Homo sapiens: one gene and its partners. The protein of the gene in region 5 purifies or fractionates together with the protein of the main gene of each other region. This does not show direct contact. Each region holds a gene or a part of one and is shown on either strand. Other genes may lie near its edges.

Evidence for each region.
Region 1: the proteins of SDHB (region 5) and SIRT3 purify together in Homo sapiens (affinity purification with mass spectrometry; one large-scale study listed by BioGRID and IntAct). This does not show direct contact.
Region 2: the proteins of SDHB (region 5) and ACSF3 purify together in Homo sapiens (affinity purification with mass spectrometry; 2 studies listed by BioGRID and IntAct, with this or other methods). This does not show direct contact.
Region 3: the proteins of SDHB (region 5) and MRPL45 fractionate together in Homo sapiens (co-fractionation; 2 studies listed by BioGRID). This does not show direct contact.
Region 4: the proteins of SDHB (region 5) and NCAPD3 purify together in Homo sapiens (co-immunoprecipitation; one large-scale study listed by IntAct). This does not show direct contact.
Region 6: the proteins of SDHB (region 5) and NDUFS1 fractionate together in Homo sapiens (co-fractionation; 2 studies listed by BioGRID). This does not show direct contact.
Region 7: the proteins of SDHB (region 5) and ATF2 purify together in Homo sapiens (co-immunoprecipitation; one large-scale study listed by IntAct). This does not show direct contact.

The regions. Positions count from the first base shown.
Region 1 is NC_000011.10:222,843-226,342, forward strand, and holds part of SIRT3 (NAD-dependent protein deacetylase sirtuin-3, mitochondrial), read right to left. Parts: intron 3,240-3,500; exon of another isoform or gene 2,831-3,239; intron 1,398-2,830; coding exon 1,236-1,397; intron 1-1,235.
Region 2 is NC_000016.10:89,114,352-89,117,851, reverse strand, and holds part of ACSF3 (malonate--CoA ligase ACSF3, mitochondrial isoform 1 precursor), read right to left. Parts: coding exon 3,365-3,500; intron 863-3,364; exon of another isoform or gene 766-862; intron 1-765. UniProt on the Homo sapiens protein: Catalyzes the initial reaction in intramitochondrial fatty acid synthesis, by activating malonate and methylmalonate, but not acetate, into their respective CoA thioester. May have some preference toward very-long-chain substrates.
Region 3 is NC_000017.11:38,314,168-38,317,667, reverse strand, and holds part of MRPL45 (large ribosomal subunit protein mL45), read right to left. Parts: intron 1-3,500.
Region 4 is NC_000011.10:134,217,468-134,220,967, reverse strand, and holds part of NCAPD3 (condensin-2 complex subunit D3), read left to right. Parts: intron 1-241; coding exon 242-396; intron 397-476; exon of another isoform or gene 477-577; intron 578-3,500.
Region 5 is NC_000001.11:17,023,033-17,026,532, forward strand, and holds part of SDHB (succinate dehydrogenase [ubiquinone] iron-sulfur subunit, mitochondrial isoform 1 precursor), read right to left. Parts: intron 1,043-3,500; coding exon 941-1,042; intron 1-940. UniProt on the Homo sapiens protein: Iron-sulfur protein (IP) subunit of the succinate dehydrogenase complex (mitochondrial respiratory chain complex II), responsible for transferring electrons from succinate to ubiquinone (coenzyme Q).
Region 6 is NC_000002.12:206,114,445-206,117,944, forward strand, and holds the end of NDUFS1 (NADH-ubiquinone oxidoreductase 75 kDa subunit, mitochondrial isoform 1 precursor), read right to left. Parts: 3' UTR 373-3,500; downstream 1-372.
Region 7 is NC_000002.12:175,074,204-175,077,703, reverse strand, and holds part of ATF2 (cyclic AMP-dependent transcription factor ATF-2), read left to right. Parts: intron 1-2,616; exon of another isoform or gene 2,617-2,704; intron 2,705-2,836; coding exon of another isoform or gene 2,837-2,844; exon of another isoform or gene 2,845-2,868; coding exon 2,869-3,095; 3' UTR 3,096-3,500. UniProt on the Homo sapiens protein: Transcriptional activator which regulates the transcription of various genes, including those involved in anti-apoptosis, cell growth, and DNA damage response.

The DNA of each region.
Region 1 (3,500 bases), on a different chromosome or scaffold from region 5:
TCACCTCGGTAAACTCTTAGATCCAACTCCACCTGCCTGACTTGACACTGCAGCTGGTTCCCAACCCTTCTAGCCTTTCTATCCTACTTGTTATCTTTCTCATAACATCAATCATCTCCTAACAAACTATATAACTTCTTACACTGACATCTGACCGTGTATGTCCAAAGCACTGGAGCAGGGCCCAGCACACAATGAATGCCTGAACAAACACATGCTCTGGGCCCCTGTGGCTGCCCTGGGCCCCTCTGAGCACAGGTCTTTCTGGCCCTTCTGTCCTCGGTGCCTACATCCAGTCACGCACACACTGACTTCATGGTCTCATTTCTTGCTCTCATCACAGCTTTTAGGAATTTCCTGAGCTGCAGACGCAGACGCAGAACAGCTGCTTGAACACATCCAGGGCATGTTTCCCGACACCTCAGACACACACAGAACCGAGCTGGGCATCCTCCCTCCCAAATCACGCCTCACCAGCAAGTGCCCTGACCTTACAGACCAAGCCAGACGCCTCCTTCTCACGTCCCCAAAACATCACAGACTGCGAGTCCAGTCCCCCTCCTCGCCATCCCTCAGGCGACCACAGCTCCACCTTCTCCAGGACCAGCCTCCTGGCACTGCTTGCTCCACTCTCCACTCCCCAAAGGCCTCCCTGACCCCAAGGGTGCAGCTACGTCCCCGGGCCAGTCCCTGTGGATTTATCACTCCTCCCACTGCAGCATCAGTATTCCTGATCTGACCTGGGAGGCCCTGCCCCTCCACCTCGCCCCCACACCCCCATCCTTCTCCCTTCTCCTCACACGTGGTGCCCCACCCACACCTATACCACCTCCAAAGCCCAGCAGCTTCCCACCTTCCTGTCTCCTGCACAGGCTGCTGCTCCCTCAGCCTGGAACCCCAGCTGAATCCATTCACCTTCCCAAAGTGGCACCAGCCCTGGAAGGGCCCATGAGATGACTCCTGTACCCCTCCCTTCCCCTGCCCTCCAGCCTCCTCCCTGCACAGGCCTGCCGACAGCCCATGAGATGACTCCTGTACCCCTCCCTTCCCCTGCCCTCCAGCCTCCTCCCTGCACAGGCCTGCCGACAGCCCATGAGGTGACTCCTGTACCCCTCCCTTCCCCTGCCCTCCAGACTCCTCCCTGCACAGGCCTGCCGACAGCCCATGAGATGACTCCTGTACCCCTCCCTTCCCCTGCCCTCCAGCCTCCTCCCTGCACAGGCCTGCTGACAAACCTCCAGGGAGGTCCCAAGGATGAGCAGCAGATCTGCCATGGGGAAATCAACCACATGCAGCAAGAACCTCTGGGGCAGCGGCTCCCCAAAGAACACAATGTCGGGCTTCACAACGCCGGTGCAGACCGGGCAGCGGGGAACCCTGTCTGCCATCACGTCAGCCTGGAAAACAGAGAAAACAGGCCTGAGGAAGATGCCTGCAACACCCTGTAAAAGGAAAAGGCAACAAGTTCTTATTAAAGTCTCAAACATTCTCCCCCAAAAAAGGTGAGAGAGGGATCATGAACCCCCATGTACCCAGCTTCAGGAATTACCAGTTTTCATAGCTAATTGTTTCACAGCCCTCCGGAATCTGGGAGGAGGTATTGGAGCCTTTAAAAGCAAATCTTGGACATCATATGTTTCACCCATAATTACTTCGGCAGGCATCTAGCGTATCTAACACCATGCTCTATCCCTGGGATGGCAGCCAGAGACATCCAGGCGCTAAGGAAACACCTGGTAGACCACACCAGTCCTCAAACAGTAGTCTGCAGGCATTTGGCCTACACCGAACACTATTCAGTCAGAAAGGTGAAACTGTCTCTGGTTTGAGCTTCGGTGATCATGCCATTGCCTCAGCCCTGGGAGGCATTCAGGTCAGCTTCACTCACTGGCTGGCATTATTAGGAGTAACAACATCTGCCAAACACTGCTTCCTTACTGGCCAAGGTGAAGTGGACACAACTTCCCTTTGCGTCAAGATTAATATAAATAAATGCCTTGGAGCAGATGGAAAAGGGAGAGAGTTACAGAGGAAGACACCTGACTTTCTAAGGTAAACCTTTACAGCTAACGGGGCTTGTTTTAAGCAGGCTCAGCCCAGCAAAAAGCAACAGATACAAAAGACAAAAGAAAGAGACCCACGAAAGATTTCAGATATTCTTGGATACACAGTAAAACTGTATTATATTTAAATTAAAAAGAAAAAACTGTTATCTTGGAGGCATGGGGTATAGCAAAAAAAAAAATTAAGGAAGCAAAAAAAAAAGATGAACTTGAAATATCTATCAAAGGCCAGGCGCAGTGGCTCAGCTCTGTAATCCCAGGACTTCGGGAGGCCGAGGTGGGCAGATCACGAGGTCAGGAGATCGAGACTGTCTTGGCCAACATGGTGAAACCCTGTCTCTACTAAAACACAAAAAATTAGCCAGGCGTGGTGATGCGTGCCTGTAATCCCAGCTACTTGGGAGGCTGAGGCAGGGGAATCACTTGAACCTGGGAGGCGGAGGTTGCTGTGAGCTGAGATTGCACCACTGCACTCCAGCCTGGGCAACAAAGCGAGACTCTGTCTCAAAAAACAAAACAAAACAAAACAAAACAAAAAACTATCTATTAAAGATATAAAATTATTAAAAAATTATGTAATAATGTAGCAGACTTGAAAAATAACCAAATAGAACTTCTAGAAATAAAAAGTACAGGAACCAAAATTAAAACTCAATGTCTGTTTTGAGTTGCTGTTTGGGAAAAAAGAAAGAAAGAAACACTCAATGGAAGGACCTTATAACAGAATACAATATTAGTAAACTGGAAAAAAGACCAGAAGAAATTACCCAGAATGCAGCACAAGAAGCAGCAATTACAGGACAGAAGAGTGATCAGGAACAGCAGGAGAGAGAAGGTCTAATGTATGTTCAATCAGAGGTCCCTAAAGAGAGGGGCCAGATAGTGGGCTAGGGGCAACTCATATCCGAAGAGATAACGGCAGAGTATGATCCAGCAACCATGAAAGACGCCAACCCGCAGATTCAGGATCTCAAGCAAGTGAGGGCTACTGAGCCAGCCTGAGGGTGCCCACAGGAAAAACATGAGTCACGGCACATCTGTGCTTGTTTCTGTCCCAAGAGGTTCTCAGGAGGTTTAGTAATTACATGTGGTCCTTCAAAGAGGGAGGGTGGCTGTGAGGTGAGTGGTTACGTACTTGTGAGACTTCAGTAAGTGCCCAGTAAATGTACATTTTACCTAAGATAGAAGGAAACAGAGGAAGAGAACTAAGCAGACCTCTCAGGGAAGGGTGAAGGAACCATTAATCTCATCTTGTCTTTAATCTGTATCTGGGAAGATAAACCAGTAATCCACATTAGCAGTGTAGAGTCTTTGAAAAGGGCTGGTTTCTGTTTAGCCCTTAGTGAAGAAGCCTAATGGTGGCTGGGGAGGGAGGGGTACAGTGAGGCGCGTCTGACCTCCTCTCCTGCTACGGCCAGGAACTCAAGCTTCCAAGGT
Region 2 (3,500 bases), on a different chromosome or scaffold from region 5:
CCCAATAACCCTGAAGCTTCAGGGTCTCTGGATCCCCCTCCTCAGCCGGGGACTCCTCTCCCTGTGCCATCTGTCTGGGGCTCCTTCCTGTTCGCCTAGGAGTTCTGATTCCAGCGTGGGGAAGCTGAGCCTCCCCTGGGTCTCTGGGCTACTATCTGCTCCTTGGCGCCCTCGGTGTGGACGGCGGTCCCTGGGCTGCTCCTTGGCGCTCTTGGTGTGGACGGCGGTCCCTGGGCTGCTCCTGACGCTCTCAGTGTAGACAGTGGTCCCTGGGCTGCTCCTGACATCCTCGGTGTAGACAGCAGTCCCCGGGCTGCTCCTGACTCCCTGGGTGTAGACAGTGGTCCCTGGGCTGCTCATGACTCCCTCGGTGTAGACAGTGGTCCCTGGGCTGCTCCTGATTTCAGCTTCTCAGCCTTGTATCTGTTCCAGTAAAAAAGGCTAGGGGGGCACTGTCCATCTTCTCTAGTGAGGGCCATTGAAGAGGTCACCGTGCTCCTGGGAAGTGCATCACTCACCAGCCGCGTGACCGTGGGCAGGCTCATGGGTTCTTGTATGTGAGTGCAAAATATGACCCCATCGCAGGGGCTGTTTCGAGAAGATCAAAAGAGAGGACGCCCACAAAGCAATGCTGTGGATGAACAGTCATCATGAACTACAAACTGTGCAGACAGATTCTGAATACACAGAACTTGTCCTGCTCACATGTCCGGAACAAAGAGAGGACAAAGCCCAGAGCCCGTTACCCTTTCAGTCCTCACTTGCCTGCAGCCTGCAGCCTCAGCGAGCCGGGCTTTGCTCATTCCGTCCATATTACGTGGTGACTGTGGCCGGTGGCACTGGACAAAACCAGCACATCCTACTAAGAAGGACAACGATAAGGACAGAGACTCAACAGACCAGTCACATTTGATTTCAAGGTCCCCATCTTATTTCCACCAGAGAGCTTTAGCCACCGAAGAAACAGCTGGTGCCGCAGCCATCGTGGAGATGCGCGAGTCAGCCCAGAGCAGGGGCCGCTAGCACTGACGGAGGTGGAGGTTTCCTGGGGTCTGAGACTAACGCGGGAGCCGGCCCAGGGCAGGGGCCACCAGCACTGACGGCGGTTTCCTGGGGTCTGAGACTAGGATGTATTTCTCATCACTCACACTGACTTCTTTTCACAACATGCCCCCACCCGCCCACTGCCCTGGGCACTGTTGCAGCAGGCACTGCACTCTGTGCGGCCACCCCACTGGCAGCTCTGCACGGCAGCTGAGGATCTCGCTGCCATGGCCCTGTCATTCTGCTCAGGATGCCCCAGCCAAACCGAGACTTTACACTCAGAATACACTTAACAGCCCCCATGGCTCCCCAGGCCCAGCAAAGGGGCGTGAGCCTACAGTCTCTCCTCCTCCCAGCCCAGCAGCCAGCCAGCCCTCACACTCACCTTGCAGGCCCCAGCACCGTATCGCTGCCTGGCACCAGCTGGTCCCTGCCTGGGCCTGAACCCCCATGTCCACGCTTACCCTAGAGTCCCAGGAACCAAGCAGGCATGGAATGAGCCAAAGGGCACACGGAAAGCAATGGGACAGAGCAGAGCCCAGGAGCCGACCCCTCAGGAGTCGACGGACTTTCAACAAAGATCCAAAGGGCTGTTCGATGGAGAAGGGAGTCTTTTCAACGAACAGTGCTAAAAAGTTAGACATTCACACACTAAAAAAGAACTGTGGTCCGTATCTCGCACTATGTACAAACATTAACTCAAAATGGATCATGGTCCCAAACGTAAGAGCTGAAACTATTCTCTGTGACTTTGGGCTACGCAAGGATTTATTAGATATGACATCAGACAATTCACAAAACAAATTGATAAACCGGGCCAAAACCTAAAACTCCTGATTTTAAAGACGCTGTTAGGTGAATGGGAAGACAAACCACAAGCTGGGAGATGATATTTAAAATCGCACAGCTGACACTTGGGTCCCGAATTTTAAAAGCTCTCAAAACTCAAGAAAACAAAGGCCCCAGTTGAAAACGGAATGACACGAACAGGAAGAGGTGCTCAACGCCACCCATCATGAGAGAATCATGAACTCAACGAGACACCACCACCGCCCGCTGGAGCAGCAGGTGCTCGTGACCTCCCACCCATTGCAGGGGGAAGGGGATGGTGTAGCCGCTCTGGAGAACAGCTTGAAAGCTTCAGACAACACAGCAATCTCTCTCCTAGGTATCTGCCCAGGTGAAATAAAAAACCACGTTCGCACAGAAACCTGCACACAAATGTTGATAACATCTCACGTGTCATTGCTTAAAACAGGGTCACAAGCGGTGCCGCACCCACACCACGGATGCCACTCAGCAGGGAAAGGCGCGGGCTCTGACGCACACAGCACAGGCAGTTGACTGTGGGCGGAAGCCGGGCGGAAGCAGACAGGCTCAGAGGCCACGTCCTGCAGGATTTAGCCACGTGGCCTCCCAGAAAAAGCAAAACCACAAGAAGAGAAACAGGAACAAGGGGCCAGGCCTCGGGGGTGGAGGAGGTGCTGAGCACTAGGAAGGGAGTTTCTGAGGCGAGGAACCCTTCTCTATTTTGACTGTGATGATGTTTCTTAAGACACACAGAGCTGCACGCCAGAGGGGTGAATTTTTACTGGGTCTGCAGGTAAGCAGCTGCACAGACAGATGTGCGGGATGGTCTCACTTTAAGTCTGCACTGAGATCTCTCTTCTACTCTAGACAGACTGGAAGGGCTGCGCAGAAAGCAGCAGGGTGGCCCCCCAGCTGTGGGCTCTGTTCCCAGAAGTCCCAGCGGAGGACCCAGGGCTCAAATGGTTGGGTCAGATGAAAGTCAGAATGGGATGTGTTAGGGAAGGCTGGACAAGAGGGGCCCGGTATCAGGAGCCCACATCTAGAGAAGGAAGACAGGTGCTTGACTCATCCCACCCTGCCCACCACACCCACCTCTCCTGGCACTGCTGCTGGCGCTGTGTGGCACCCGGACTCCAGACAGACGGAGGCTGCCACCACTGCTGATGTGGTCTGGAGCCAACAGCATGGCCCCCCGCCTTCCTCTGAGACATGCACTGACGCCTGCATTCCAGGCATTGCTGTTCTTCCCATTGTCTCCCCAGTCATACAGCCAGGGGCCAGCACAGACACCTCCCCCATCCACCCGACTGAGACTTGGGAGAAGGCTGATCTACCCAGAGGGGACAGGTCGCAGTGCATCCTGAGTGCTCTCCTGGCCGAGTGGCCTGTCCCACGGGGGAGCATCCTCCATGCCGCCCTTCAGTCCGAATGTGGGTGGTTCGAGACTGGCCCACCTTGGGGGGCTCAGAGCACAGTGGAAGAGGAACGCAGCTGTGGGAAGTGCTCGTACCTGGCAGGCGCACGGCAGTGGTCAGGGGCCCGGACAGAGCCATGCCGATCTCGGTCATGCCATACCGCTCCAGCAGGGTGTGGCCCGTGATGTTCTTCCACTTCTCCAGCACTGGGAGGGGCAGGGCAGCTGAGCC
Region 3 (3,500 bases), on a different chromosome or scaffold from region 5:
CCCGGGAGGCGGAGGTTGCGGTGAGCTGAGATCACGCCACTGCACTCTAGCCTGAGTGACAGAGCGAGATTCCGTCTCAAAAAAAAACAAAACAAAACAAAAAAAACACAAAACAGACAACAAACCCTAGCTCCTATAGATACAAGATTTTAGGAGGGTTCCTAGCTGATGAGTCTCAAACCTAAGGCCATAGATTAGCTTCTTTCAGATACACACGACTTTTCCCCAGTTTACTATGAGCAGTTTAACTCTTTGTCCCCTTTGAAAAATCTTGCTCTCTAAGCCCAGAATGGGTAAGGGATTAGTTCTAACATGTCTATCTGCTTCCCTTTCATCTCTATTCCTAATAGGAAAGATTCCAAGTCATTTCCTCTACTGTAGGAACAGACTGAGCTGTGGTGACAACTACCATGATGACCATCACTGGCACCTCTGAGTGAACTCTTCCTCCCCACTATCCTGGCATAGAAGTCTTCAGTGGAAATAAACTCCATTTTCCATGAGTTCACTTACTATTTTGCAATAATGTAATACTACTTCTACTATAAACATTTAGAAATGGTGGATTTATGGGCCGGGTGCGGTGGCTCATGCCTGTAATCCCAGCACTTTGGGAGGCCAAGGTGGGCAGATCACGAGGTCAGGAGATCAAGACCATCCTGGCCAACATGGTGAAACCCTGTCCCTACTAAAAATACAAAAATTAGCCAGGTACAGTGGCACACACCTGGAGTCTCAGCTATTCAGGAGGCTGAGGCAGGAGAATCGCTTGAACCTGGGAGGTGGAGGTTGCAGTGAGCCAAGATCGCGCCACTGCACTCCAGCCTGGCAACAGAGCAAGACTCCGTCTCAAAAAAAAAGGAAATGTTGGATAAAATGTAAAACAGACAAATACACTTTTGCTTTTTTTTTTTTTTTTTTTTTTTTTTTGGATTGCACCACTGCCCTCCAGCCTGGGCTACAGAGTGAGATTCTGGGACTACAGGTGCACGCCACCACACCCAGCTTTTTTTGTATTTTTAGTAGAGTTGGGGTTTCACCATGTTGGCCAGGCTGGTCTCGAACTCCTGGACTCAAGTGATCTGCCCGCCTCGGCCTCCCAAAGTACTGGATTATAGGCATGAGCCACCACACCTGACCAAAAAATAATTTGACAGAAACCACCCCTAAGGAAACCCAGACATTGTAATTATTAGTAAAGACACAAATCAATTGTCCTAAATATGTCCAATGAGCTAAAGGAAACCATGGACAAAGAAGTAATGAAATCAGAAAAACAATGTGTGAACACATTGGAGACAGAAATTATACAAGGGAACCAAACAGAAATTCTGGAGCTAAAAAGTACAATAAATTTTAAAATTCACTAGAGGGGTTCAACAGCAGGTTTGAGCAGGCAAAGTATCAGTGAACTTGAGGATAAGGTAATTAAAATTACATAGTCTAAAATGCAAAGAGAAAAAATAATGGAAAAAAAATGAACAAAACCTTGAGGGACCTGTGGGACATCATCAAGTATACCAAATACACATCATAGGAGTCCCAGAAAAAGAAGAAAGAAATGGATAGAAAAAAAATTTGAAGAAATAATGCGGCCAGGCACAATGGCTCATACCTGTAATCCCAGCACTTTGGGAGGCCAAGGTGGGTGGATCACCTGAGGTCAGGAGTTCGAGACCAGCCTGGTCAACAGGGTGAAACCCTATCTTTACTAAAAAATACAAAAATTAGCCAGGTGTGGGTGGCAAGTGCCTGTAATCCCAGCTACTTGGGAGACTGAGGCAGGAGAATCACTTGAACCTGGGAGGCGGAGGCTGCAATGAGCCGAGATCGGGCCACTGCACTCCAGCCTGGGAAACAAGAGTAAAGCTCCATCTCAAAAAATAAAATAAAATAAAAATAACATGCAAAAAAAAAAAAAGAAAGAAAAAGAAATAATGGCTGCAGACATCCCAAATCTGATGAAAGACATTCATATGTACATCCAGGAAGCTCAAAAACCTCCTAGCAAGATAAACTGAAAGAAATTCATACCAAGAAACATTAAAACCAAAGTGTCAAAACCCAAACACAAAGAATGAATCTTGAAAGTGGCAATAGGCTGGGCACAGCAGCTCATGCCTATAATCCCAACACATTGGGAGGCAGAGGCAAGAGGATCACTTGAGGCCAGGAGTTCGAGACCAGCCTGGGCAACAAAGCGAGACCCCTGTCTCTACAAAAAAATTAGAAAAAAAAAAAAAAAATTAGCCAGGTGCTGTGGCACACACCTGTAGTCCCAGCTACTCAGGGGCTGAGGTGGGAAGATCGCTTGAGCCCAGCAGGTTGAGGCTGCAGTGCAGCTATCATTGCACCACTGTGCTCACTCCAGCCTGGCTGAAAAAGTGAGACCCTGACTTTAAAATAAAAAAGAAACAAACAAAGGCTAAAGGGGATCCTTCAGGCTAAAATGAAAGGACACCAGAAAGTAACTCAAAACCACAAGAAAAAAACAAAAAACATGTATGTTTTACTACTATGTAGGAAAAGTAACTACATAGATAAATATAAAAGCCTGTATTACTGTACTTTTGGTTTATAATTCCTCATTTTTCATCCTGTATGATTTAAAAGGCAAATGCATAAAACAATAATTATGAATTGATGTAATGGGCACCCAAGGTATAAAACTGTAATCTGTGATAATGAAGCAGGAGAGACATAATGAAGTGGGAGGGAGAGACATATAGGAGCAGAGCGTTTGTATATTATTGAAACTAAGTTGATATTATTCAAACTAGGTTGAACTAGCCACCACGCCTGGCTGTGTTTCTCTATTTCTGCAAAAACCACTGTTGAGGACAGGCGGTGGCCCATGCCTGTAATCCCAACGCTTTGGGAGGTCAAGGCGGGTGGATCATCTGAGGTCAGGAGTTTGAGACCGGCCTGGCCACTTAATGGGAAAGCACAGTCTCTTCAATAAATGGTGCTAGAAAAATGAATATTCTCATGCAAAAAAAAGCAAAAACATCACATAGTTTTCACTATATACAAAAACTAACTCAAAATGGAGCAAAGACCTAAATGTGAGAGCTAAAACTATAAAAATCTTAGAGAAAAAGGAAGGGGAAATACTTCATGACACTGGATTTGGCAATGATTTCTTGAATATGACACCAAAAGAAAAAACTCGATATGGTAACAAAAGAAAAAAACTTGAAAAACTGGATTTCATCAAAATTTAAAACTTTTTTGCATCAAAGGATACTATCAAGAGTGAAAAGACGGCAGGCGCAGTGGCTCACGCCTGTAATCCCAGCACTTTGGGAGGCCGAGGCAGGTGGATCACCCGAGGTCGGGAATTCAAGACCAGCCTGTCCAACATGGTGAAACCCTGTCTCTACTAAAAATACAAAATTAGCCAGGCATGGTGGCGCATGCCTGTAATCTGAGCTACTCAGGAGGCTGAGGCAGGAGAATTGCTTGAACCCAGGAGGCAGAGGTTGCGGTGAGCCGAGATC
Region 4 (3,500 bases), on a different chromosome or scaffold from region 5:
TATTTCCTCCTTTATATTTTTAGAAGATGATTAGCTTAATAGTCAGTGTCAGTTGTGATTTAAGATTCTCTTAACCTTTTCTGGTTTTCTTTTATTATGCTACACCTATGTTATTAAAACAAGTTAAATGTGAATCGTGACTAGTAAACTTTTCTCCTCTTGAACACACCTGGAATCTAAAGGTGACTAGTTTTTTTACTTGTTACAGAGTACTTACACATTTCATTGCATTTTCCCCTAGAATGGGTTGACACAGTGTGGGAACTGGATTTCACAGAGACTGAGCCTTTGGATCCCAGCATAGAAGCAGAGATCATAGAGACTGGATTGGCTGCATTCACAAAACTCTATGAAAGCCTTTTACCCTTTGCTACTGGAGAACATGGATCTATGGAGGTAAAAATATAAAAACAAACTAGCCAAAGTTTGGTGTTAGAAGTAGAAGATGAAAGTCATTATTATAATCTGAAGCTTAGCTTTCTTGGTGTACAGTTCACAGGGAGTACAATATGAGTAACATAAAGAATGTGGTTAATTTATTGGAATATCCTAAGAGCTTTCCTCCAAAAGCTTCAAGGTACTTGTCTGATTTTTTTTTTTTAAGACACGACTGTTTTTTACAATAGCAAATTAAAGGAAAAGTATAAGGCCGGGTGTGGTGTCTTACGTCTGTAATCCCAGCACTTTGAGAGGCTGAGGCTGGCCAGTTGCTTGAGCTCAGGAGTTTGAGACTAGCCTGGGCAACATGGCAAAACCCCATCTCAGAAGGAAAAAAAAAAAGGAAAAATATAAAGGCAAAAACAAGAAAACTAGACCAAGGAAAATGCAAATAACAATTCAGACATGCCTTAACCTTAACTTTAAGAAAATCTGCGACCAGGCATGGTGGCTCATGCCTGTAATCCCAGTACTTTGGGAGGCCGAGGTGGGTGGATCACGAAGTCAGGAGTTCAAGACCAGCCTGACCAAGATGGTGAAACCCCATCTCTACTAAAAATACAAAAATTAGCCGGTTGTGGTGGCGGGCTTCTGTAATCCCAGCTACTCGAGAGGCTGGGGCAGATAATTGCTTGAACCCAGGAGGCGGAGGTTACAGTGAGCCGAGATCACGCCACTGCACTCCAGCCTGGGCGACAGAGCAAGACTCTGTCTCACAAAAAAAGAAAATCTGATATTATTAAACTGAGGAATGACTAGTTGAATTAACAGGTTTGTCCAAACAGTTCCTGTAAATATTGAGTTCTATCCAATGCATAGAAATATAAATTATTATTAATATTTAGGTTGTTAGTTTTCAAAAAAAACCAAAGGGTTGGGAAACAGAACAAAAGCTAATTGGATATTAACATCTCTGAAACATTTAAATGAACAAAAAAAAATTCACTTCCAAGTTTCACATCACAAAATTAAATCATCTAATTAAACATTCCTTCAGCATAACACTAAGCACTGCCTTAAGTACCTGAGTTGACAGAGTGGGGATTACGATACAATCTCCCTAGGTTGAGGTCCTCCCCAGGGACCTCAGGGAGGAAGAGTGGACATTTGAACACTAGCCAAAGTAGGTCTAGCAGCCACATGCAGTTGCAGGGGGTGGAGAGTTCAGTGCCACTGTGCATTTGGGCGCCTGGAAATATTCTACGAACCACACTGTGAAAAATGCTCCAAGAGAGGTGCGGATTTGTTGCATAGGGTGTGAAAAAGGGAGCATGGTAGGGTTGGGAAAGTTCCAGAAAGAAAGTGGCCAGCAGCGAATCTTCACAGATGACTAGCAGAAGCTTGGGTTGTAAGGCAGTCCTAGTGAAGGAGCCACCCAATGGGAACACGCAGGAAGTGTCAAGAGGCATACAGAAAAAGTGTGGTGGAACGGGATGGTAAGGTAGAGTAAGGGTAGGTCACGGGTAGCTTTACGTGAGGTTCAGCAGTGGAGTTTGAACATGTTTGGTAGAGTGTGTATGAGGTTTTGTTCTAAGCGTCCTGCATGTATTAACTCATTTAATCCTCAAGCAGCCTGTGTGAAAGAGGTTACAGTGGGCAATAGATAGGTAACATGAATAGATCTGTTTTAAGCAGACGTTCTTGACAGTAGGTGGACTGAAGTGGGAAAAATTGTGTGCAGGGAGAGCCCTTGGGAGACTGTATTGGTGATCCAGGTGTTATGAGTAATAATGGCATGATCCGGAGTTACAATTTTGGGAACTGGAAAGGAAGACTAAAAACTAGGGACATTTTTGGAATTAGAATTAATAGGGCCTTGTGAACTAGGAAGCCCTTTTGAGATATCTTAAAAACATGGTGTGAAGTGCTAAACTGACTGGGCATAGGGAATTAGAAAAAGAAAGAAGTCAGTGATCCCCAGGGTTTCAAAACTAGGAAGATGATGATATTGTTAACCAAGGTGGGGAATAAGGGAAAAAGAGCAAGGTCAAATGGAGAAACAGTTCTGTTTAGACTTCTGAACTTGAGATTCTGTCAGGAGATCCTTGGGAAGTTTAACAGGTAGTAGAAATGTGAGACCAGGAGAGAGAAGAGAGTTCTTTAAATTGAGGTATGGGTTGAAGCACAGTGATGCATGAGATCACCGAGGGTGAGAAGCAGCCAGGACAGAAATGGAGAGCTGATTGGACGGGGTCTGCAGAGGAGCAGTCACATGTAGGGAGTGCAGGGTCACTGACGCCCAGACTAGACAGCAGCCATGGGATCACATGGGGCCAAGGTGACCCCATATGCAGAGCCCTGGTGAGCAGATGGTTTAGGGTGATCGATCACCCTCGTGTGTGAAGTGGAGGTGCAGGTGGCATTAGGAATGAGGATGTGACACTGTAAAGTTAGGAGATGATTTCTTCCCCCCCCCCCCTTTTTTTTTTTTGAGACCAGGGTCTTGCTCTGTCACCCAGGCTGGAATGCAGTGGCACAGTCAAAGCTTACTGCAGCCTCAACTTATTGGGCTCACATGAGCCTCCCACCTCACCCTCCTGAGTAGCTGGGACTACAGGTGTGTGCCACCACGCCCAGCTAATTTTTTATTTTTTGTGGAGACAAGGTCTTGCTTTGTTGCCCTGGCTGTTCTCAAACTCCTGGGCTCAAGCAGTCCTCCTGCCCTGGCCTCTCAAAGTGCTGGGATTACAGGCATGAGCCATTGTGCCCAGTGGAGATGATTTCTCCCGTAAGTTTTTTAGTTAAGGAAAGGAGAGTGCTCTGCTCACTTGAATTTTGTGGGCCTTTTTTTGTTACGATACTCAAGGATAAACCATATTTAGTTCCTGCTATGTTTAGGTTATTAAAATAACCCATTTCTTCTTCATGTGTTTAGTAGGAGAAGACATGGAATGAAGATAGAATTAATACAATTGTGGTTTCTTTTCTAGGGTTTATCTCCTTTACCTGGGCCATTTCCGAGATCTCTTTCATTTCCTGCTCCCATTGCCTGCAATCTGCAGAACATTTAAATAAAGGGCTCTGATTTCCTCAGTTAGTAATTATTGGTAAAGGAATTTGAG
Region 5 (3,500 bases):
TATAATTTGGTGAAGGCAGGGACTGTATCATATAACTCTTATCTGTCTTCATGGCACCTACCCATGCTGGACTTGCTGTCTCTGAGTAAAGGAATGATTTAACAGACCTGTCTACAGATAGTATTTGTCCCACTTAATGATTCTTTGAACTTACACAGCGCTCTCAGCAGCCTGAGATCAGCAGGCTGAAACGAGTTAATCACATGACCATAGGCCTGCTCTAGCAGTGTTACTTAGAGGACCTCTACATCCCCAACTCGGAGCAGCTGGCAAAAGTGACAAGTATGAGTGTACTTCATTATCCAATCTTCACATGGCTGGGAATCAATATTGCTCATGTGGTCACACAAACCTGTAACTTCTCTTTTTGTGGGAAAATGAGAAAGAGAAGTTGGTTTTTGAGTTGCCTAGAGTCTGTGAAAAGCACGTATCTAAAAAAGCACAAGCTTTCTGGGAACAAAGACAGTGACTTTCTTTGCAGTGAACATCAATACTATTTTCTTTCTAAGCAACCCCTAAATCCAGGCTTTCATTAGCTGGGAAACAGCTTCCAATCTCATAGCTGGGCAGCTGCCCTTCAAAGACACTGCTTTCTCCCCTGCTTGCTCGCTACAAGTCTTATGTTACAAATCCTATGAGAGGGAGAGGGGGAGCCTCTGACCACCAGGCAAACGGAAATACATTTTAAACATCTGCAAGGCATGGTTTGCACCCCTTTGGGGTGACCCTCACTGCACTGAAACAAAGGCAATTTGCAGACAAGGCCCCAGATTTACCGAAAGCAAGTGAATACAATGCAACCAATTACCCTGTTTGGACTGGATGGCAATGAAGGAAACCAGGCCCCTCAGAATGGCTGGCTTACAGCAATCTATTGTCCTCTTGGACTTCTGGATGCTTGAGTTTCAATTTCTCTTAAAGCAATTAAGGAGCACCTCACCTGCATAAGAACTGCAGGCCCCAGATATTTGTCTCCGTTCCACCAGTAGCTGGGGCAGCTGGTGCTACAGCAGGCACAGAGAATGCACTCGTAGAGCCCGTCCTGTATGGGGAGAAAAGAGAGGCAGGAGCTTGTGACGGGAGAGACTCTGCTATGTCTTCAGCTGATTAAATGTTACCTTTGGGGTCAGTGCATGAACAAAGTGCCTACTTGCATGTGAATTTTCTTAGCAAAATCCAAGGGGTGATTTGCAGATATTTAGCAGATTAATAAAGATCTTGCAAGTGAAATGTAAACATCTGCCCAGGGTTCTTAAATCCACGTATAGTGCACTTTCCCTTTAATAAACAAGAACCTCTCACTTGTCTAAAAAAGAAATAGAAAACAAGAACACAAAAACAACTCCCATAAATTCCAGCTTCCTGGAATGAGGTCAAGACGGGAGAGATTCAAAAGCCTAGGGGCTGAAGCAGCAAGAGTCTGTAGCTGCTTCTGCCCTGGGCTCAGCAGAAGGGCCCTCAGGTTTTCACTGGGAACATCAACATCATCCCCAGTGACTGCCACTGCCAATCCTGACGGAGGCCCTGCGCCTTACACGCTTTCCTTAACTGATCATCACAGTAATCCTGTGAGGTGACTCCAGCAAGTTCCACTTACAGGTAAGGAACCAAGGCGAGGAGAGTGAGTTAGGCCATGTGCCCAGGGACGTGCCACTATAGGCAGCAGAACCAGGATGTGGCCCCGGCAGCTGGCTCTGGCTTCCTGCACTTTCACACCTGCCACACTGGGTCAATCTGCCCAACAAGTCCCAAACACAAACCGGACTTTCTGAGTTTGGAAACAACAGAAATGGATTAAAAACAGCAAAATGAAAGGGGCCCACTGACACCTGAAGTGACAGTTGAGAACAGATGAGACAGAACTGATGGTTGTGATTGAACCATGAGTCTTCAACCAAATCTATGTTATGTCCAGACAGCTGGTGGGAGTGTCAACTGGCCCCACTGGTCTAGAAGGCATAAGGTCACAGGATTAAGAGCCTTAAGAATAGTCATATTCTTTAACCCACTCCTAGAAAAATCTGTAATAAGAAATTAGAATGTTTTGGGCAGAACTTGAAGGATAAAGATGTTCATCTAGCCTTATTTCTAACAGTAAAAAATTGGAAACAATTTCATTGTCCAGCAACAGTGAAATGGTTTTATGGCGCATGGTGCATACATCTGAAGCAGTAGAAAGCAAAGTGTAAGTTAATGCTTATGAACAATTTTAAGAATATGAAGAAAATGCTCACAATAACATAAGTGAAAAAAGCAGGATATAAAAGCATATTTACATTTTGATCCCAGCTACATAAAAATATAATGTAATAAACAAAAAACAAAGGAAACTATAAATATTAACAGAGATTATGTTTTGGTGGTGGAATTATAAATTCTTTTTTTTTTTTTTTTTGAGACAGGGTCTTGCTGTGTGCCCCTGGCTGGAGTGCAGTGGCACAATCACAGTTCACTGCAGCCTGGAACTCTTGTGCTCAAGCAATCCTCCCATCTCAGCCTCCTGAGTAGCTGGGACTATAGGTGCATACCACCATGCCTGGCTAAGTTTTAAAGTTTTTGTAGAGACAGGGTCGCCCTATGTTCCCCAGGCTGAAAATTATAGCTTATTTAAAAAATGATGGAGCCTCTCTGAACCTATTTTGGTTTGGGGGCTGCCCAATTAAAAATAAATACATACATAAATTTCTCCACATTTTCCAATTATTTATTAAGTTCAGCATACTAATTTAAGGAAGCCAAAAAATGTTAAATGTTTGGTATGTAAATGAGTAAATGAGTAAATTTCTATTACAGGTTGGGCATCCCAAATCTGAAAATCTGAAATCCAAAATGTTCCAAAATCTGAAACTTTTTGAGCACCAATATGCTGCTCAAAGGAAATGTTCACTGGAGCATGGATTTCAGATTTCGGATTTGGGGTGCTCAACTAGTAAGTGTAAGGCAAATATTCCAAAATCTGAAAACATATGAAACCCCAAACACTGAAACCCAAGCATTTAGGATAAGGAATACTCAACTTGTATCTAGAAAACCAAACATGCTCAGGGGAACTCTTCAATCCCTAATAATACCACATCAGGGAGATGTTCACTAGCTACGCACCAGCCTTGCCTAGGAATGCAAAGGACTCGCTGGGCCAGAGGGCCCGGTTCAGCCTGGACTCTGGGATGCACAAGACTCTGGGAGGTAGAAACTGAGGAGCAGAGCTGCAGTCTGAGAAGAGCAGCTCTGAAGTCTCATCCCAGGCTTACTCTGACTTGCAGGCCACTGTGCTGACCCTCACTATCTTGATGGTGACAGACTGGGCACACTTACTAGGACTCCCCTTTTTCTCTTTTCTTTTTTTCTTTGAGACGGAGTCTTGCTCTGTTGCCCAGGCTGAAGTACAGTGGCACAACCTTGGCTCACTGAAACCTCCACCTCCCGGGTTCAAGAGATTCTCCTGCCTTGGCCTCCTGAGTAGCTGGGATTATAGGTGTGAGCCACCACACTCAGCTAAT
Region 6 (3,500 bases), on a different chromosome or scaffold from region 5:
CTTGTTGCCCAGGCTGGAGTGCAATGGTGTGATCTCAGCTCACCGCAACCTCCACCTCCCAGGTTCAAGCGTTTCTCCTGCCTCAGTCTCCTAAGTAGCTGGGATTACAGGCATGCACCACCACATCTGGCTAATTTTGTATTTTTAGTAGAGATGGGGTTTCTCCATGTTGGTCAGGCTGGTCCCAAACTCTTGACCTCAGGTGATCTGCCCGCCTTGGCCTTTGGGATTACAGGCGTGAGCTACCGCACTTGGCCACAATATGTTGTTTCTAAAAATTATAAAGCAGTATATTGTAAAATTTTTCAAATGTTTGATCAAGGTATAAAATTCATTTCCTTATACTATACCACATGTTAATTGATCCAGGGGTAATCACAATTAAGTTTTTATTGTATCTGCTGAGATACTTTCCATACACACGTAAGCATATACATATATACACACACACACATTATTGTACACTTAATTTATGTCCTTAATACATTCTGAAGCACTTTCCATATCAGCACGTTGAGATCTAGCTCATTGGTTTAAACATCTGCATGTTTCATTTTATGATTATACAAAAAAATTTTTCAGCAGTTCCCTATTGATGGATATTTACATATTTTTGTTTTGTCTGACATGACAAACATTGCAAATGTACATCCTTTGTCTCATGATGAATCATGCCTTGAGTCTCACTCATATCTGATTTAGATGAGACTTTGGACTTTGACTTTAAAGTTGATGCTGGAACAAGTTAAGACTTTTTAGGGGCTATTGGGATGGAATGAATTTATTTTGCATGTGAGGACATGAATCTGGGGAGCCCAAGGTGTGGAATGCTATGTTTTGAATGTGTTGTCTCCACAATTCATGTGTTGGAAACTTAATCCCAATGCAACAGGGTTGGGAGGCGGAGCCTTCTGGGAGATGATTAGGTCACAAGGACTCTGGCCTCATATTTGATTGATGCCATTATAAAAAGGGTTTGCGGGAGCATGTTAGCTCTCCCTTGCCCTTCCATCTTCTGCCATGGGAGGACAGCAAGAAGGCCCTTCCCAGATGCTGGCACCTGATCATGGTCTTCCTGGCCTCCAGAATTGTAAGAAGTAAATTTTTTTTTTTTTTAACGAAGAAGTGAGTATTTTATTATTTTGCTGTACAGCTGTTGCTTCACTATATAAAAACAGCACCAGCAAATGCAGTGTATTGCAAAATTAAGATAGTGTTGTTCTTCATCTGACACTGTACAAGCAACAAAAACTTCTTCACTCCCAGTTATTTCCAATGGAAAGATCATTAAGTATTTCATCCCAAGTCCAGGTATGGACATACACAAGTTACAATATTATATAAGGCTTAAGAATAACAACATTATCTTTGAATTATGTAATTTTTGTAACTAATTTTTACCATGGATAATTTCATGGATAATTTCATGAATACTAGAGCCTAGTCTAAAAATCATAGGATGTTGTGAAAAAGACACATATTATGTTTATCTACAATCATTAGAAAGTTAAAAGGCATCTTCTTTCATTAGCAGTGTTAACAGTAGTTTTTTTTTCCCATGGGTAATGCTAAAAGTTGCTATTCTAAGTCTTCTATCCACCACTAATTTAGGACAACTCTGCTGGGTTGCGTTATTTCATACTAGCTTATTTAGTGGTTCCATTTTCACTCCTCAATAGATTTTATGTATTTCTCATATGCTTCTTCACTCATAAGTTCATCTAGTTATGAAGGGTTACTCAGTGTCATCTTGATCAGCCAACCATCTTCATAACGAGATTTGTTTACAAGTCCTGGATTTTCTGCAAGAGCTTCATTAATTTCGGTTACTTCTCCTGATAAAGGAGAATAGAGTTCACTAGCAGCTTTCACACTCTCCAAAGCACCAAACTCATCTTGTTTGTTCAATTTTGTCCCAACTTCAGGCAGATTACAGTAACCAGACGGCGCCCATCCCAAGCTGCCAGGGCCTCGATAGGCAGGGCGCGGCAGGTGCCAGGACCACGTGCAGGCTGCAGAGCACGGCCCGCACGCTCCGCACCACTCGCAGCGCCATGTTCCCAGGGGTGCGGGGATGGCAGCGCTACGCCTCAGCCACTCGCGCGGGGAGGCGGGGCGGTGTGGGCAGAAGTAAATTTCTTTATAAATTACCCAGTCTGGGCCTGGTGTGTTGGCTCACATGTGTAATTCCAGAACTTTGGGAGGTCAAGGTGGGAGGAGCGCCTGGGCCCAGGGGTTCAAGACGAGCCTGGGCAACATAGTGAGACCTGTCTCTATAAAATATTTTTAAAAATTAGCTGGGCGCGGTGGCTTACGCCTGTAATCCCAGCACTTTGGGAGGCCGAGGTGGGCAGATCATGAGGTCAGGAGTTTGAGACCAGCCTGACCAACATGGTGAAACCCCGTCTCTACTAAAAATACAAAAATTAGCTGGGCATGGTGGCGCACACCTGTAATCCTAGCTAGATCCTAGTAGATTGAGGCAGGAAAACTGAACCCGGGAGGTGGAGGTTGCAGTGAGCTGAGATTGTGCCACTGCACTTCAGCCTGGGCGACAAACTGAGACTCCGTCTCAGAAAAAAAAAATAAATAAATAAAAATTAGTGGGGCATGGTGGCTCACACCTGTAGTTCCAGCTGTTCAGGAGGCTGAGGCAGGAGGATTGCTTGATCCAGGGAGGTTGAGGCTGCAGTGAACTGTGATCATGCCACTGAACCCCAGCCTGGGTGACAGAGTTGCCTCAATCAGTCAATCAATCAACCCATCACCCAGTCTGTGATATTCTGTTTTAACAGCAGAAACAAAGACAACTAGACATGCCCACTGTGTTATGTACTTACCTCTATTAGAATATGTTATGTCATTACTATAATTGATGCCTACATATCTCTTTTAGTATACTGTTAGCTTCTTGAGGACATTAGCTAAATTGTATTTCTCTTTGTAGTCTTGGGTAATGTACTTGACACACAGTAGATACTCTGCAAAAAAATTTTGTTTTTCTTTTTGAGATGGGGTCTCGCTTTGTCGCCCATGCTAGAGCGCAGTGGCGCGATCTGGGATCACTGCAACCTCCGCCTCCCAGGTTTAAGCAATTCTCTGACTCAGCCTCCAGAGTAGCTGGGATTACAGGTGTCTTGCCACCATGCCCGGCTAATTTTTGTATTTTTAGTAGAGATGGGGTTTCACTATCTTGGCCAGGCTGGTCTTGAACTCCTGGCCTTATGAGAGCCACCGCACCCAGCTGATACTCTGCAAATGTTTAATAGATGTTGGAGCTGAATTTCAGGCTTTGTAATGTCACAGAACCAGGCATCAGAAGAGCTGATCCAAACCCAAGATCTGCCCCTAACTTGCCTCTTATTCTTTCTGGCCTCCATTTCCACAATTATAAAATGCAGGTATAATACTAAAATTTTTTTTTGTATAGTCCTTTACAGATCCAAAATTATGATTTTAAGAAGGAAATTAATAAGTTATTCATCTCAGTATCTCTTTAG
Region 7 (3,500 bases), on a different chromosome or scaffold from region 5:
TGCTTTACCTAATTCTGAAAGTCTGTAGGTAAGCATTCATCCCTTATAATTTACTGTTTCATTTTAAGTTGTTGACTCCAGTATGTATTTACGTTTCCTTATACCACTCATCACAGATCAGCCTCTTTATTTTTAAAAGCTGGTGTGTCCCTTGAACTCAACATTCAGGGAAACGTCAGCCTGTTGTTCTTTTAAAGAATAGTGGTGAAGTTAGAATGGTGATCATTAAAAAGTCAGGAAACAACAGGTGCTGAAGAGGATGTGGAGAAATAGGAACACTTTTACACTGTTGGTGGGACTGTAAACTAGTTCAACCATTGTGGAAGTCAGTGTGGCGATTCCTCAGAGATCTTGAACTAGAAATACGATTTGACCCAGCCATCCCATTACTGGGTATATACCCAAAGGATTATAAATCATGCTGCTATAAAGGCACATGCAAATGTATGTTTATTGCAGCACTATTCACAATAGCAAACACTTGGAACCAACCCAAATGTCCAACAATGATAGACTGGATTAAGAAAATGTGGCACATATACATCATGGAATACTATGCAGCCATAAAAAATGATGAGTTCATGTCCTTTGTAGGGACATGGATGAAGCTGGAAACCATCATTCTCAGCAAACTATTGCAAGGACAAAAAACCAAACACTGCATGTTCTCACTCATAGGTAGGAATTGAACAATAAGAACACATGGACATAGGAAGGGGAACATCACACACCGGGGCCTGTTGTGGGGTGGGGGGAGGGGGGAGGGATAGCATTGGGAGATATACCTAATGTTGGATGACGAGTTAATGGGTGCAGCACACCAACATGGCATATGTATACGTATGTAACTAACCTGCACGTTGTGCACATGTACCCTAAAACTTAAAGTATAATTTTTAAAAAGTGATAAAAATAAAAAAATTTTAAAAATCACATATAAATACTTAAAAAAAAAAAAGAATAGTGGTGAAACAAAACAAATAGAGCTTTTTAGTATTCCCTCCAGTTAAACTGTCATTGCCAGTATTTTGTTTTCTATATACATGTAATGATTATGTAATGATTATATTGGCTATTTTAATAACTGAATTATAAATATTTTATAACATTCATTACTGCTTGATCAGAAAAGTAGGGGGGTGAAGGAGAGGGGCACTAGTTGAGAAACGACCTGTTGGGTGCTATGTTCACTATTTTGGTGATAGGTTCAATAGAAGCCCAAACCCCAGGATTGCACAATATACCCATGTAACATACCTGCATATGTACCATCTGAATCTATAATTTTTTTTAAGTATTCATTCTGTTTTATATAATTTTTAAAGGATTACTACTTCTGGTGGTTGGTGGTGGTGGTGGTGTTGTTTTATTGTACCTTGAGGTCAAGTATCTAGGGGTATGGTTTTGATTTATAGCATGTTATAGAGAAGATGGGGTTCCATCTCATTAATGTATTTTAAAACCTGCTTTTCAAAAATGCATGGATTTGAGGCAGATGTTGAAAAATTCTGTAAAAACTATATTTCAGAAAATGCACAAAATTAATAATTTTATTTTAGCTAAAGTTGACACTACCAGGTATCCCCCTCTCCATCTTCTACATTGCAAATCATAGGCTAAGTCCTGCTTCATAAGATGTCCACAATTTTTTTCACTAATTGACTTTCAGAATGGGCATCTGGCCATTAGTAAGCAGGCCAATACACATTCTTAGATTTGATTTTAGAAGCCTATTTACTGTCACTCCTAAACACTGAATAAAAAAAGTTTTAATGCCAAGTGAAAAAAGCAAGGTGCAAAAGAATACATCCAGTGTGATACTGTTTTTAAAATGTTTCAAAATAAACAAAGCTGAACTATATTGTTTAGGGATACATGCCTATGTGGTAAAACTGCAGAGAAAAAACGAGAATGGTTAAAGAAATGTCAGAGTGGTGATTACCTTTGGTGAGGACAGGAACCTCCAGGAAGCAGAAGTGTTAATGGCAATGTTCTCTCTTAAGTTGGCGGCTCGGTTCCCAGGTGTTCATGTTATCATTGTTCCTCATAACTTACATATACTATAAATATTTGTGTGTTATCTATATCAAATTTTTACTAAATGAAATTACTGGATTCTGTTCTATTAAAATAAGGATGTAAGAGACTTGTTCAGGTCTAAATATTTGCAGATTTATTTTCGTAAATATTTAGAATGCCCTTTCCTTAATATCTTTTCAGATGCAATGTTTAGAGTTTTATATGGATTTTTACTTGAATCCCAATTTATTCATGCAACTATAACAGCTGGTGGCATTTAGATTCTAAATACTGCTTGTTCTCCTATGTATGCATCATTAGAATCAGGTGTTATAATCATCCATGGCTGCAATAGATGGAAAATCAGTCAGAATAAATACAGTTCTGGAGAATGCAGAGGGAATAATTTGAAGATATAATTTGTATGTAAGAATTCATTTTGTTTATGCATGTGGTTATACATTTTTATCTTGTAATAAGAATGACATGTAGGCCAACCAGACTGAGTTTGTTAAATGTGATACTTAATGTTTGATTGTATCTGTAAGAGACTATCTTCCAAACTCTCCCTCATTTTCTTTCTTTAACACTATTTAGCAAATATTTCTTCAGCTCTATTCCATAAGGCAGTGGGCACCCAGATGTTTCCATATGCATGGTTGTGCCTTCTTTTGACCTATTGCAGGTAAAATTGCCTACTTCATGACCTATATCAATTGCTGTAATACCAACTTGTCTAATCAGTTTTGTAAGATACTTTCTAACTTTTTACTCTGTGTATTGCCTCAGCATACTGGTGCATTCTTACCGATTTTAGGAAAATGAATAATTTTTCTTTTTTCCACCCAGCTGCTGATAAAGATGATAGTTCAGAAGACATTTCAGTGCCGAGTAGTCCACATACAGAAGCTATACAGCATAGTTCGGTCAGCACATCCAATGGAGTCAGTTCAACCTCCAAGGCAGAAGCTGTAGCCACTTCAGTCCTCACCCAGATGGCGGACCAGAGTACAGAGCCTGCTCTTTCACAGATCGTTATGGCTCCTTCCTCCCAGTCACAGCCCTCAGGAAGTTGATTAAAAACCTGCAGTACAACAGTTTTAGATACTCATTAGTGACTTCAAAGGGAAATCAAGGAAAGACCAGTTTCCATTTATGCGAAATCTGTGGTTGTAAATTTTTTTTTTTTACTTGAAATTAAATTTGGCTCTAAAGTTGGTGTAGCAGCAGTTGATCAGACTGAAAAACGGTTTTTAGTCTCTGGAAAAAGACTGATTTTGCTTTTTTTATAAATATTATTAGATTTATTAATTTTTCTGTGCTCAATGTGTAAATTGTATTATAATTCATTGTGATTTATTTCACTTTTAATTTGCTGGTGTTTTAATAAATGGGGGTGTTACTGAATCTTTCTTCCCACTTCCATTTCTTTTGACCACCCCTTAACCCTCAACTGTGACGGTAGTAGTATTATCATTTAT